Linked DNA regions of Homo sapiens: region 2 is linked to region 1. A link means that fine-mapping ties the variant in region 1 to the expression of a gene that starts in the linked region. Tissue or cell type: tibial artery. Region 1 holds a variant in brackets; the other region holds the start of a gene. All regions are shown on one strand. Distances are from middle to middle.

Region 1 (8,113 bases):
AATTGTGAAACAACTGTTTTCCTAATAACTGAGAAGCAATCAGTAACTTTTTCATAAAAGGACTTTCATAGCTTCTAAAATATGGAATTCAGCACTGTAAAGCAGAAACACTAAACATGTCAAAACACCTAGCGTGGTATAGGTAACCACAAATCTGCAAATGACACACTGTGCTGTAGATAGCAGGCCGTCCTAACACAATTTGGTCATGGTAAGGTTTAATTTATGTAATTAAATTAAATAAAAAATAAGAGTATTAATTTAAAGCCATTTCAGGTTCACAGCAAAATTGAGAGGAAGGTACAGTGATTTTGTTATTCTTAAGAATTTCCTCATTATTGTAGAGTTATCCAGAGTCTAAATACTAAGACAATAAAGTTGATTAAATTATTTTAAAGACATGACATGAAGCATGTACATTATCTTTAAGGGGTTTTCTTTTTTTCTTCAATAGATATCCCAAATATACACACAATCCTATTTATTTGGGTCTAGGATGTAAATATAATTTAACTGTGTGCTAAGTGCTTTAGGTAGCACAAGCATTTATCTATTGTAAAATGAAAATTCAATTGCCATCAAATCAGAATTTTGATTTCAGTCAGAAATGCAATAAATTATGCCATAAGGAATATATTTGTATACATTTTGTCTCAGATATTTTCTCATGTGGTATTGTGAAGGGTAACAAGTATAATATTATCTGTAAAGAATTTAAAAAAATATTTTTAAATATAACTAATAGTATATACTGATTTTGACAGTTTTCTTTCCAGAACTCAAAACGAAAGCTATTTTTAAAAATTAGGTGATTTTGATAACTATTAAACTTTAATCAATGCATTAAGAAACAGGCAGCTGGCGATCTAATGCATAAGTTGCTCTTTCCTTACTGTATTTTTCAGACCACTTGCGAGTCAGTTCTAGGTAAAGACCTGGTTTATGAGGACGGTAATCTAGGTACACTGTATTACTGGTTCTTTTGGGAACAGCTTTTTCAATCTGAGTTCCTTCATGCCACTCATTAAAAGAGGTGATAGAAATTAAGCTGGGGCGTGTCTGAAGTGCGGCACTCAGACCAATTTCATAATACTTCCCATTGATTCGGTTCCGAGTGTTTTGCGTGTTCCATGGACGGATGCTGGTATCTATGTATCCTGGGCCCACACTTGGGATAAATATTAAGTTGTATTTATCACAAAATAATTTTAGGCTAGCCCAATTCTGATGTGATGAGCCATAAGTAAAGCCATTTGTGGCAAAATATGTGTAAATTCCATCAAAACCACTTTGAAGAATATCATACTTATGTTTTTCTTCTACCAGAAGGGCAATAAACAGTCCATCATAAGGAGAATTGCGAATACTCCGAGACCCTGAGGTGGTTAACAGATTGGCCCATTTTTCAGGCTTGGTAATATAGGAATCATAGACATAAAACATAGGAAGAGCATTGCCAGTCTTCGTCTTGTACCTGTAAAAGGCCGGATGATTTCCATATCTAGAAAATAAGCATATATAAAAGTGAAATGAATATTCACAACTAATTTGCCACAGACAAAAACTGTTTACTGAAAATGAAGGAGTCAGTGCAGTTTGAGCACACTGCTCCATTTCTTAGGGGAATCAGTTGTGTAAGTGTAATAATTAAAAATGCATTTTTAATTTTACACATTAGAAAATGAGATACTGGATGCATTACCAAACAAGTATTAACCATCTCATATTGAGGTTTACAAATGATGACTAATGCCATAAAAAGCCTATGTCTCTACATTATAAATAATACTCTACATAATACCTAAACTGCTTTTTTATCTATCAGTGATAAATGTTCTACTGTTGCTGACAAGTTTCTTTGTAAGACTATGGCATCTGTCACAGACTATTATCAGTAAAATTCTTTCAAAAAATGAAAACTGTATTAATAAATTCTTTTTGATCAGGCTAGATATAAATGAAAATATCAGCTCTGGGTCTACTGTGTTAAAAGAAGTAGTTCACTTTTAATAATCTGAACCTTCTTTTTAAAAAGATAAAGCTATATTCTGAAGGTTTAGAAAATAATGTCATTTTAAAATATCAAAACTACAGAAATCATAAATAGCCTATAAACCTGTAAAACAGTAAAAACAGCAATCTTCCAAAAAGAAAGTGAATTATAAGAAACTTCAGCAATGTTCTTCGAAATGATGGTGACATTCATTACAATAACAATTTAATTTTATTAAAAATGGAATAATCATAAATCATTCAAATCTCAAATATAATTTAATGTACTATTCTTAAAACAATAATTATCACTGGATAATATAACAATATTTATAAATATTGAAGAAACTCACTTGTCTATAATATACTTGACATTTTTGTACATGTTTTGATCATCTCGATTGCTATATGGTTCTATGTGAAAAGTAACCTAAAACAAACAATAAAATCAGTTAGGGGATAAATTATCTATAATGTAAAATTAGAAGTATACTTAATATATTTAATAAAGTAACTGATTTAATCACCTTAATTAAAGATGAATATTTATTGAACACAGAAACTACCAGAGAATTTTTACCAATAAAATTTACTGCTAAATAACATGCTAAACATTTTATATTATTATCTTGGTTAATCTTCACAACTCCCTAAGGTATTTCTGTTTTCTTAGTGAGGTAATCAAAGATAGACAGAACCTTAAGAAAGGTTCAGTAAGTTGTTCCAGGTCACCCAGTTTGTTGGAGGTAATATTGATGATCTGAATTCCGAGTTCAAATGCTTAACTGCTGTGCAATGCTTCTTTTTATGTTTACTCCTTATAAAAATGTTTCTTACATATTTGTATCCCATATAATATATATAGGAAATACTCTATATTCAGATATATGTTTCTTTTAGGAAAAAGACCAAAAAAATATGGTCCAGAAAAATCTGGATTTTTTTCAGGCATGTGACCATTAAGCTTAAATTTAAATAGAAGTCATTAGCAAATTTATTTACATATAAATTCTTCCATATCATTAAAACAGCATTTTACAAAATAATATACATTAACTTCTATTAAAGAATTTATAATGAAATCGCTTAAAAATAATATCCACTAGTGTTATAAAGGACATTTTTCATGATGCCTAGGTATTTATGGTTTGGATATCCCATACACACACACACACACACACACACACACACACACCTACATACATATATACGCACACATACATACATTATATATATATATGTAAACATAGAGAGCAGTAATTACAAATATTTTTAAAATACTGTGCACAGACTAAAATTTTTTAACTTAAG[G/T]TTGGCTATACATAAATCAAGACAAACTAATTATGGCTAGTAAAACCATTCTGTATGCTACTTCTAACTAGTAAGGTAAAAAATACAGAAGATACTTCTCTTAGATGACAATCTATTTCAGATTCATAAAACAAAGAATGAGGATTTTCACTTTTATTCCTAGTTTTACTGACTTACCAACATCAACTAAAAATCTTTATGGCAGTCTAATAAATGTATTGATACTGTTTTAATTTTAGGTTTCAGGCTCTATGATGTATTTATGGAACTAGAGACTTCTATTGCAATATGAAACTCCTCTGTTTTCAATTACCCAATTAAAGCAAAATGTATTTTACATTAATCAGTGCTACTTGTTTTCACATAATTAATTTTAAAGTTAAATAATATTTAAAAAAAATATAATTTTCTACTTTAAATGAGATTACAGTAATATTATAAAAGTAAGTTTCTGTCATAAAAAACTAAGGTCAAATTAATTTTTGCAGCATATTGTTAGTATTGCCAGGGTAGTAACTGCTAGGGCAGCTAGATTTCTCAATAACTTTGGTATTTGCTTTTTAAATTCAGTTGAAAGCAAATTGCCTAGTGTATAGGTATTTTCATACTATTACATAATGTTTCCTTGGGTAATTCTTCCTTCAGTTACATCACTGTGTTTTCTAAATTTCCATTTTATACATAAAGGACACCATATTTAAGCAATATCCAACTTGAAATATCCTATATCAAAATGAATTTGCTTTTACAGCTGCAAACAACAAATAGCATGCTATTTTTGTAAAGCGCAGATCAATATATTTAAAGTAAATATAGTATTGATAAGTATAAAATATTTAAAATTTTCCCTCATGTATTTCTAATTTCTTAATTATAATAAAATTACTTTGCAATTTTTTTTTTTTTTTTTTTTTTTTTTGAGACGGAGTCTCGCTCTGTCGCCCAGGCCGGACTGCGGACTGCAGTGGCGCAATCTCGGCTCACTGCAAGCTCCGCTTCCCGGGTTCACGCCATTCTCCTGCCTCAGCCTCCCGAGTAGCTGGGACTACAGGCGCCCGCCACCGCGCCCGGCTAATTTTTTGTATTTTTAGTAGAGACGGGGTTTCACCTTGTTAGCCAGGATGGTCTCGATCTCCTGACCTCATGATCCACCCGCCTCGGCCTCCCAAAGTGCTGGGATTACAGGCGTGAGCCACCGCGCCCGGCCATTACTTTGCAATTTTAATTAATGATGTGATCTAGTCTCCATCTCTCTATTCCATTTGGAAAAATCAATTAGATCAATGTTAAAATAAATTTTAAAATAACAGAATTCTATACATAAAATGAAATGTCTTTCTTATCTTTAAAGAATAAGAATATAAACATTCCCTCATTTCATGTTTTTAATTTTGACCTTTCCTGTCTCTTCCCTACCCTGCATTTTAATAACTTTAATAAATAAATTTTAATAAAATGAACTTTTTTGAATGAAAATCTGATAACTTTCTCCTTCTCCAACTCTATTCTCTACCTTCACCCCTGCACACTCCCCTATCCCCTGCCACAACAAAATTGAGGTAGGTCTTCCTACTCCTATGTGGTGCCATAATACCTCATACTTTTCTCTTCCTGAAATTTACTTGTCTTTGTGTCTGACCTCCAGTAGATTACAAGGCATTTTAGGGAAAGAGATAATACTTCATCCTTCTTCTTAATATTGTCAGCATCTGGGACTGTATCTGACACGTAGCAGGTGCTAAATGAATGAATGCATGCATAAATAAATGGACTAATGATTTGCATGCAAAAACAAACAACAGTTAAACTCTTAAGTCTGTCACTTATACTGGATTTAGGTAAGATTCCCAAAGTTTCTGCCATGAATTCACAATATTCATTTAACAAGGAAAAAGAAAAAGGAGAGGCCATGACTAATATAACATGTTTCAAATGTAGGTGAAAATCATTTAAAAAAGAATCACGGACATACTTATATTCATGTTTCACATGGTTGAAATCTGCATAAGCCTGAAAAGCAGATAAAATGACTCTAGAGCCATATGCAAAGAAATAATGGATGTTGATAAACCTAGTATAAGAAATGTGATTTCTGCATAAAGTAGAAAGAAAATATGCTACTTTAAAATAACATACTAAATTTATTAAAATGAAAGAAGATCACCAGGGCTGAGTTGGTTCTTTCCCCTATAATCCTAAGCAAAAAAAAAAAAAAAAAAAAAAAAAAAATCACTGAATCTGCCTAATTTTCTTTTACTTAGATGAATGATTTAATTCAGTCAAGTTTTGATTAGATAATGCCATGTAACAACCCCACAATCTCAGTGGCTCTAAAAGACAAACATTTGCTTTTCGAACATAAAATCTATGAACTGGCTTATGATGGTTCTGCTCCAGGCTGGTTCAAATCAGCTCCACGTGTCTGTCATTCTGAGTCCTAGGCAGAAAGGGGCATGCTTTTCTTATAAAAGAGAATAAGAGCATAATCATGCAAGCACATAGTATACATTATCTCTTCTCACATCTCATCAGCCAAAGCAAGCCATAAGGCCAAACCCAACAACAACAGGGCAGGAAGTATACTTACTCTTTGCATGCAGGGGAAGGAAAACCAGATTATTTGCTAAACAATGACGGAATCTACCAAATATTTCTGTCATGTCTTACTCAAAAAATTGTTCCGTTGCTGTGTTCTTAATGGTGCAGGATATAGAGGAAGGAATCCAGCCCTGATTTTTACACTCTCTGCAAAACCAGCCTACTAAATGACAGTTATAAGTGCAACAGCCTTTGCTCTAGCAAACATGCAGACAAGTATACTTTAAAAGAACAGAAACTAAATCGCTTTGAAAAATCAAGATTTAAATTTTAGTTTCACTCATTTACACTTCCAAAAAAAAACCTAGTCACATTTGCTAAAGATAATGAAAAATAACTAAAGCACCAATCATTTCCTTTTCTTGCATGTTTGTTTATAATTTAAAAGGCACTTACTTAAAATAACTCTTGGTTGAAGTTAACAAATCAAAATTACAATTACAAAATATTTAATGACTAATATTAGTAAAAACATTATATAATCAAAATGAATGAACTATAACAAAAGTTTAACTGTGAGACGGATTCATTCCCTAAAAATTCTCCATCCATTTAGTATTTCCATGCTTTGAAGACTAGCAAGAAAAAAGAGATGTTACTAATGAACGCATTTTACACTTAAAAGTTTTAGATGTGGTCAGTTATGTGCATTGGAGGCTCCAATTTGTCAGCACACAATCTACAACATCATTAATCTTTTCCTATCAGATTGCCTTAGCACACTGAATAATTCTAGTAAGGTACTGTCATTCATTAAACATATTAAAATTTCCTTATATTAGCAAGAAAAGGGAAAGTTTTCCATTCTTTAAAAAAACAGGATTTACTGCATTTTATTGAGTTAGGAAAAATGTCTGTTCCACAACAACAGAAATCATAGACAAATCCAATAAAACTATCTTATGGTTTCATTGTCATTGTACAAATGAAGGGGATAAGCCAAGAAGATCAAGGAACTAATATAAGATTCCAGAGCTACTCAGTTAGAACAAGCTCCAGTCTCATGATTCCAGGTCTATTCTTTGTCTATACATAGTTCCTCACCATACACGAGGCCAAGAAACTGTTCTAAAAATTTTGGAAAACATTAGTCTATCGTGTTCCAAGTTTTTCTGATCATTAGATATAAAATCCCTAGCACAGAGAGATCAAGTATGCTGGCAACATTAAATAGGCAATTAGTGGTCGAGCTCTTTGCCACACTCTCCTTCTCTACACAGACACTTTAAACAGGAGAAAAAGCCAACCAATCCTCATATATCATAACATTTTCATTTTCTCTTTCAAAACTTCCTGAAAGTACTAAAATAGCCAGTTTCTTGAGCTTCCATCTTCCAGGATTTTGGCAGGGCCTGGACAGAAAAGCAGCTCTTGGGCTTGTTTTGTGGAAGATAAATCAATCACTTACCCAACCTCAGCCTGGGCACCAGAACCTGGAGGCTTGCCTATTTGCAGATTTCAAATGCCAATAAGAACTCACTGAAAGGCACCAAGGGACATGGCAGGTGACAGCTCTTGCTAGACAGCTAATTTGAGAGATGCTGTCTTAACAGTTTCAGGATAGTAAATCAGAAAGAAGAGGCAGCTTTATGGACAGAAATAAAAAAATGCTTGCCTATTTAGCTCTTTCTCACTCCCTACAGTTCCATTTCTATTCTCCAATAACTACTCAATCTCTAGGCTGCAAAAGGAAAATTAAGACAAAACTAATGTTTCACATTTTTATTTGAAACGAAATATTTCAACAGTGGTCCATAACATATCTTACAGGGCTCAATTACCAGTATTGGACAAACCAGATTGTCCTCCATTAGAATATAACTGCAAGAAGTTACAGAGCAAATAAAAAGCTTCAGCAAATTTTAAGAGTGGTTGCAATCTCAGAGTGGTCTCTAGTTAAAAGAACCTACATCACTTTTTTTTTTTTTTTTGAGATAGACTCTCACTCTGTCGCCCAGGCTGGAGTGCAGTGGCACCAATCTCAGCTCACTGCAATCTCTGCCTCCCAGGTTCAAGCAATTCTCATGCCTCAGCCTCCTGAGTAGTAGCTGGGACTACAGGTGTAGTATATCCATCAGATATAGTGTTTGAAATAAGATACTAAGAGACACCCTTTATCAAGCTAAAGAACTTTGGTTACTAAGGACTTCATTAACAATGAATTTTTATTTCCTAAAATTTTCAGTATCTCTTAAGATAACCATGTTTTACC
Region 2 (8,097 bases), 960 kb before region 1:
GAAATCAGTATGTTAAAGAGATATCTGTATTCCCATGTTTATTGCAGCACTACTCACAACACATAGCCAAGATATGAAATTACCTAAGTTTCCATCAATAGGCGAATGGATTAAAAAAAGTGCTATATATCCCAATGAAGTATTATTTAGTTGTAAAAAAGAACAAATTTCTGTCATTCACGGCAACATGAATGAGCTTGGAGGACATTATTTTAAGTGAAATAAGCTAGACACAGAAAGATAAATACTGCATGTCCTCATGAATATGAAGAAGCTAAAAAAGTCAATCTCATAGAAGGAGAGAGCAGAATAGTGCTTACTGGAAGCAGAAAAGGGTAGGGGGAAGAAAGAGATAGCCAAAGGTAGGTTAAGAAATACAAAATACAGCTAGATAGGAGGAATAAGTTTGAGTGTTCTATAGCACTATAGGGTAACTATAATTAGCAATTTATTGTATATTTTCAAATAGCTAGAAGAGTGGATTGTAAATGTTCCCAACACAAAGAAATGAAAAATAAGGTAATAAATATGCTATTTACCCTGATTTGATAATTTGTCATATACATGTATACAAATATCACATTGTACCTGATGGATATGTACAGTTACATGTCTATAGTAATACTAATAAAAGCAAAAAAGAAAAAATTTAAGAAGAAAAAAATCTTAGAAGTCATGTGACTTATGACATGTTACTTAAATTGTTTTATGAATAATTGTAAGAGATAGTTAAACAAAATCAAGCTGGAGAACAAGCCCAAGAAGCATATTTCTCCACTCCACTTCCACACCACCATCTTTAGAGCATTATAATTGCAATGATATTGGAAAAATACAAAAAGGTATATTTTTAAATGGGAGGAGACAACCTGAATATATCAAAATAATCTACTCAGGATCCATTTGGTGAGTATTCCTTTGGCAAAATGAATATGCAAAGGAATCGCTCAAAGCTTTGCTAAAAATCAAGTGAGATAAATTTAAGGTCCATTGGTGCTGGAAGTATAACCGAAGAATTTGAGAAGACAAAAAATAAAAATGACTACTGTTATTATTATTCTAATATAAAATTCTATAACACAGCTGTTTTAATTATATCTTTAAGGTAGGGAGGCAAACTCACTTGCCCTCATTCATAGAAAACTCAGTATGAATGACACTTCAAAACCTTGACTCTGTTCTCCACATCACACTATTGTTTTCAAAGAGACTCTCTAGCTTTATTTATTTAATGAATGTAAACCTTGCTGTTGACATATCCTAGTATGTTCTAATCAGGGTAATTAGCCCATGTGAAAGTTTAGACATATGGTGAGGATAAGGTAAACCCAAACCCATAAGAATGTTTTACTAGTTCATATAAAATACTAGGGTATGTCATCAATAAGCTGATTATTTATTTTTATTTTAAATAGAGTCTCCCTATATTGCCCCAGCTGGTCTTGAACCCTGGGCTCAAGTGATCCCCACGACCTTGGCCTCCCAAAGCTAGGATTACAGAAGTGAGCCACCGTGCCTGGCCTCAAGCTGATTATTTTGCAGGGATTTGAGGCATGTTGGGCAAAAAGGAGTCCTCCTTCTCCTCCTCTTCCTCTACCTCTTTCTTCTCTTCCTCTCCTTCAATGAGCTTTCAGGGTACCAAAAAGTAACCAAGAAAAATTATGGTAATTGGAGAGGAAAAAGATAATTACAAGAACAAGGAAATGCAAGCTGGTTTAACTAATATCTGATTCAGAGCTTCCCATGCGAACCCAAGTATTCAGCTTTCATTTCTAAAGAGATCATGTTCCCTCGATTGAAAAAATAAAAACAGACAAATTAAATATCTGTCTCTAAATATTCTCTAAATCTCTAAATTTTCTAAACTCTTATTTGTAATATTATAGTAGAAAAGTACCCAGTCTTATGTAAGAAACACAGATTAATTCAGCTTTACTCAAAATGTTGGTAAGTGTAATAAAAATAAGAGGTAAATTTGTCAGTGAGGTGGTGTTATATTAAAACACAAATCTACTACTCTTGCTTAGGTAGAACAGTCCCAGATTTGGCAACTAATAATAATGTGAGAATAAATAGAACAAGTGTAGAAAACAGACACTAGAGTTTACCTTCCCCTTAAAGCAATTTGGATTATGGCTTAAAGCATATATCATAACACATATGTTAAGAAATATCTTGTATGATACATATGTTTGCAATACCTATGTTAAATTTTAATCCATATGCTTTGCTAATAAAAATGCTAGTATTTACACATGATGGTATTGTGGATATAAAATGAGGGCTAAAATGGCTCAAGGATTTCCTTACATTTTATGTATGAGAGCTATGCATTTTGTTAATAATTCTTTTTAGTTTCCAATTTTCTAAAGTCTGAAATGACAGCTGAGGAGCTGCATTTGGTTTTCAAATGAATGATAGGTACCAAAGAGGATATGACTAAAATAGTGAGAGAGAAAGCATTAACACATATGGGATGTATGCTTTTTGCCTGAATAACACTACCTCTGTTTCAAGAAGTAGCACTTTAGATTGATATAGTCTATTATATATTTCTGTGGGCTGGAAACACAGATATTTTAATTTAACCTTAGAAAATTAAAGATTATGAATTTTTGTATGCCCACTTCTGGAAAGTAGGCAGATTTTTCTTGAAAATAGCAGGAATCTCATTAACTCCTTTTACTTAAAACCTGTAAGTGACTTCAAAATGTGCTCTTGAAATATAAATCTAGTCATAAAATATGCTCAGTGATAATGTTATTCATTCAAATAAATTAAGCCAAATAAAATCTCAAGAGCCCTCCTCTTCTTCCTCTTTTTACAACAATAAAGCTATACCCCACATTAAGACCATTAGAAAAACTCAAGAGGCAATTCCAAGGAGTTATCTGGCCCCTATGTTACCTCCACATGCAAGTTATAAGAATGAGAAATCTGAAAAGCTCAGCATATAAAATTTGATAACCTTTAGCTAAAATGGCTAAGAAACTTCAAAAGGCATACACTTTTGCCAAGCAAAAGTTTTCTCTTAAGTAGTTACTGGAAAGTTTATAAAAATTTCTCATCCTTAAAAAAAAATTAGAGAAGTCAAAATACCACAAAACAAAACAAAGGAAATATTTGGGGGAAAGAACTCACTTTGTCTTAAAGCCGCTTCTTCCTGTGATTTAAACAGTACGAAAGGAGAATATATGTTGATTATTTTTCCTCCAATCCACATGCATGTCAACTCCAAAAGGAACAGAAAGTCACCAGCACCATCTGAAGATCCCTTCCAACTGCATGCAGCTTTTTCAACTTTGCAGGAGAAAACAGAAGGGTCCCTGCATTTCCTCCAAGTCTTATACCGTGTACATGACTCCTACTGGGCTGAAAAAGCACTATTTGTCAATTTTTACTTAAAACTATGAGTAACAAATTCTCTGCAGGACATCCTTAAAGGGAAATTCTGCCAGGATTAGCATTCGAAGTATCTGGCTAAGCTCCAAAAAGTTTAAAATACACAATGTTCACACAGACGCATACACACTTGAGAAATTTCCACTAACTAGGCTAAATTAAGGGCATATTTATAAAAATAATACTCTAAAAGGATGATGTATTTTCTGTTTCCTCAATCTGTTTTTGGCTTTGTTTTCTTTGTTTTCTGGTGGTGATCAGAACCCTTCTTTTAGGTTAGAAATGTCTGAACCGCTGAGCTTTTCTTTTGGACATTGTCTCTTAGAATCTCCTTTTGAGGCCATCTGGAAAGGGATGAGGTCCCATGCTCTTACCTGCAAAATTATTGGTACCTTAAGAGATGGCCCCCTGGATTGTGGCCTCTATCTCTCCCTTCTTGGGAAATTGGGGAACTCTGAGACATAAGTTTGAGTAGAATACTCAAGGTAGTTCCCTGCTCTCTGGACTTGCAGTGTGGACTCAGCCTTCCCCGCTCTGCCTGCTTCCTGGTGAGCTGGCCACAATTGTGACATCACATCCATGGCTCTATGACTTCATAAAGCATAAACTCATTGAGTCTTTTGAAATCTTCAAAACACAAAAAGTGGACAGAGATGTCAAGAGTTGGATCTGAAGAAATTTTTGGATATTAAACCAATCCATAATAGGTATCCTCAGTGGGGCACACTGATTCATAAGGCAAGTGACATTTTCTCTTAGAATCTCCATTTGAGGCCATTTCTTCAGTTTGGAAGGCAGGATGAGAGAAGAAATTCTGCCTTAATCCCAGACCAAACTTAAACTGTCCTTGTTCTAACTGCTAAAGGAATGAAATGTTAATATCTTCTAAGGTCAAACTCGGGTATATACAGTCAAAGAACTTGAGCTAGAGAAATGCAGAGCCAGTTAACTGTATGTTTTGTTATTCACTTGACTTTAATGATTAAGACATTATGAAAATGAACATATGGCGACTAACAACAATAAATTTGGATTCAGCAAAAGGACACAAGTATATTTCATTAGTAATAGATTTTAATCCTTAGGACACCATTGCTAAACAGGTACTGCCTGTATTTTCCTTGTTTTATGGGCAAGGAAAGCAGTCCTTGAGATGTAAAAGTGCCTGGGACCATCACCCTCTTTATTTGCTCCCATGCTTCCTGAGAGGGTAATCTACATCCACCAAGTCATTCCAAACCTACTACATTCTGAGCCTTCTTCTCCCTCCCAACTTATTGCAATCTGTCTTTCACTTGAACCGCTCCAAAAAAGCTTCATTAAGATCATATACAACCTTGATTAGCAACCCAAAGAGTATGGTCTTCAGTCTTACCGAAAAATTCTCATCTCTGGCCATGTCTATTTCTTTCTGAAATTATCTTCCCTTGGTTTTGCTATGTTACACCCTTCTGATTTTCTGTTTGCTCTTAGCACCCTCACTTTCTCTCTATTCACCTCACTCTTCCCTAGAGCTTTATCTTCTGTTCAGTATGCTTCTCTGCAGACTTTCCATCACGTTCTTCATCAAAACAATGAACAATTTTATACAACATGACTCCCAAATGTGTACTTTCATCTGATACCACTCTTCAAGGTTCCAGACCTGTATCCCGCTATCTATTAGAAAACCTTGTCTAGGGGTCCCCAGCCATCTCAAACTCAACAGTCCCAAATATCCTTATTGTCTTCTCCCCATTCCAAACTTGTTAGTTTGCTGTATTTCCTACTTCAGGGAATGGCACAATCATCCACCCCTTATGTTAGAGTATTCCCTTTCCTCATTTATCCTCCACCATCCCCATCATTGTCCACCTTCTGTAGGTTCTAGTTTGTTAAATGATCTTTCTCAAATTTGTCCTCACCCCTGCATTCCATGTCTCACATGTCTCACTCAGATTATTCTGTCAGCCATAAAATAACTGGCATCTGCCTCAGCCTGATCCCTTTCTATCCTTCTCTATAGAAAAATATTATTTTTAAATAAGTTTGTTAAATTATAAAATACATGCTTCTTGCAGATAATCTGGAACAGAAACTGGAAAACATATACAGAAAATGTAAAATGTAAAATGATTTGCAATCCAAGACAGCCCAGACCAAATCTTTGTGTACCTCTTTAGGCTTTGTATCATTCATATATTAATGATACAGAGAAATGCTAAAATTTTTTGTAAATATATTGCATAACATAGTTATGCAGTATATTTAGTTAGAAAACCAAGACCACATTGTATATACTTGTAGAAAGTGCGAGATATTTTTCTTTTCCATTACTAGGTTTATGGTTGAGGCCCCTATAAAAAAAGGCAAATTAATAAAAGTATACAAATTATTTAATGTAAGTTTTTATGGGACATGGGAGCCTTTCAGAAATGAAGACTCAAAGCAAGAGATAAACGTGTGTATTTTTATGCTTAGATTTGATGAAGAGTGGATAGTCATGGAAAAGTATGACTGGACAAAGGGGATATAGTCTAATGATTATACACTCGGGGGAACTTAGCAAGGCCTGTTTGTTTAGACTCTTCTTTGTGTTCCTTTCTTCCAGGCATAGGGAGGTCTCTTGAATGAGGGTCTTATGACCTGCCTCGGGAGAGAAGGGTAAAGGGAAGGTGGGAATGATCTTCCTGCTTCTGGAGTTTTCTCAAACACCAAGGTGCCATATTTTAGCGTAGTGCATCCTGAACCCCATTATAAATCTGTATCCTTGTTTTCACTTAATATACTGTAATTTTCCAAGCCAATAAAATATTTTTTATTTTATTATTATACTTTAAGTTCTGGGGTACATGTGCACAACATACAGGTTTGTTACATATGTATACATGTGCCATGTTGGTTTGCTGCACCCATCAACTCATCATTTACATTAGATATTTCTCCTAATACTATCCCTCCCCCAGCCCCTCACCCTACAACAGGCCCCGGTGCGTGGTGTTCCCCTCCCTGTGTCCATGTGTTCTCATTGTTCAACTCCCATTTATCAGTAAGAACATGTGGTGTTTGGTTTTCTCTTCTTGTGTTACTTTGCTGAGAATGATGGTTTCCAGCTTCATCCATGTCCCTGCAAAGGACACAAACTCATCCTTTTTTATGGCTGCATAGTATTCCATGGTGTAGATGTGCCACATTTTCTTTATCCAGTCATTCACTGATGGACAAGCCAATAAAATATTTTTAAAGTGGCTATAACAAATAGTTGCTATGTAATAAAATACATAATGGAATAGCTCTCCTTTTTTTTCTCTCTTTTTTCAACACCAAAAGATACACTCAGCATTTAAAACATACAAATCACAGGACTGAGATTAAGACTGAAAAGAGGAAAGGAGAAAAATCTAGAACATTGACTTTAAGTACATTTACATTTATTAGGTTGTATTTAAACAACAATATGTTCTATGTGTCAAGTCTTCAAGTTCTTACCCAACTCTGAAGTCTGTATGATAGAATTAGGTTAAGGACTGCATTTTAGATGAGTAAAGACAGGCTCAGTAGTAAAACAGTTTGACAAAGCACTTTTACTTCTTTACATTGAGTAACACAAAACATGAGACAACCTTTGAGACTTTTGTCTTAGGTTGACTAGTCAGATCGCAGTTTTTCTTTGGCAGACTAGTATCTGAATAGACTATTTCAGAGCCAAGATTGGCCTGTTTCTGTGCAAGAGAAGGTGTCCATGTTCCTCTCTACTAGAGGCTGGGAAAAAAGACTCGTATACATTTTTTAGTCATTTTAATTCTCAGAAAAGGAAGACATTAATTTCACGAATAATATGTACATTTTAAAGAATTTTGGTAAATTGCCAAATTGCTTTCCAGAATGTAATTTTTTTAGAAGACAAATGTAATTACTTAATTTCCCTGGTTAGTTGAATCTTTTAAAGGCTTCCATGTTTTTGAGATAGTGGTTGAACTTTGTAGCTTAGTGTTTAAGGCATTTCAAAACCCCCCTATTCTCTCTACTTTATCTTACACTACTTCCCCAGATCAGTTATTATATTTCTCAGACTTCTTGGCTCCCCACATCTCATTATTTCATTCTAATTAGCGTCATAGTACTTCTGTACCTCCTTTTCTCTGCCTTAATATGCTCTCCTTCCCTTCTCTCATTTTCACCAAGGCTAATCCTTCTTTTTTTCTCTCTGGACTCTTGGTTCAGGTGTTATTTCCAGCCTCCCCATTGTGCAACACAGTCTAAATTTCATTTCTTGTCACAACACCCTCTGTGTACTTTTACCAAGACACTATATTTAACTGTAATTATTGACTTGTTATTTCTTTGAAAGTAAAACATACCTTTAAAGTTGATATGTGCCTTCCTAGTATTTAGCTGTCATACACGATCGAGTAAATTAGGCCAAGTCCATAAATTCACCATGTTCTCCCTTTCCTCCATTTCACCATCAATGTAATCCTGTCTTTCCTGCTCCTTAAAACAAACACCCAGATTGTCTTACTACTAATCACTTCAGAGAAATAGAGATGCAACTAGGGGCAAGTTTGATAAAACAAATAATACAACACTGGGAACTTATAAACATTGAATACATGTTTACAGTGGTTATTCCTTCTTTTTTATGATGTAAGTGTAATACAAATTGTTTTTCTGAAAGCCTGAAAGTCAGTTTCATTCTTAGAAGGTTTGAAAGAA

Evidence for each region. PIP is the estimated chance that this variant, and not a neighbour inherited with it, causes the effect.
Region 2: it holds the start of FHL5, and the variant in region 1 is fine-mapped to the expression of FHL5 in tibial artery (GTEx, PIP 0.90).

The regions. Positions count from the first base shown.
Region 1 is chr6:95,599,136-95,607,248 of GRCh38, reverse strand. MANEA (mannosidase endo-alpha) reads right to left here. Exons shown (of 5, transcript NM_024641.4): 4 at 2,346-2,422; 5 at 1-1,501. The coding sequence ends at 844. Among named protein-coding and RNA genes, the nearest start is that of MANEA, 26 kb to the right of the region's middle. The variant G/T (reference allele first, on the strand shown) is at 3,304.
Region 2 is chr6:96,558,400-96,566,496 of GRCh38, reverse strand. It overlaps FHL5 (four and a half LIM domains 5), which reads right to left and starts at 3,369. Exons shown (of 6, transcript NM_001322466.2): 1 at 3,142-3,369.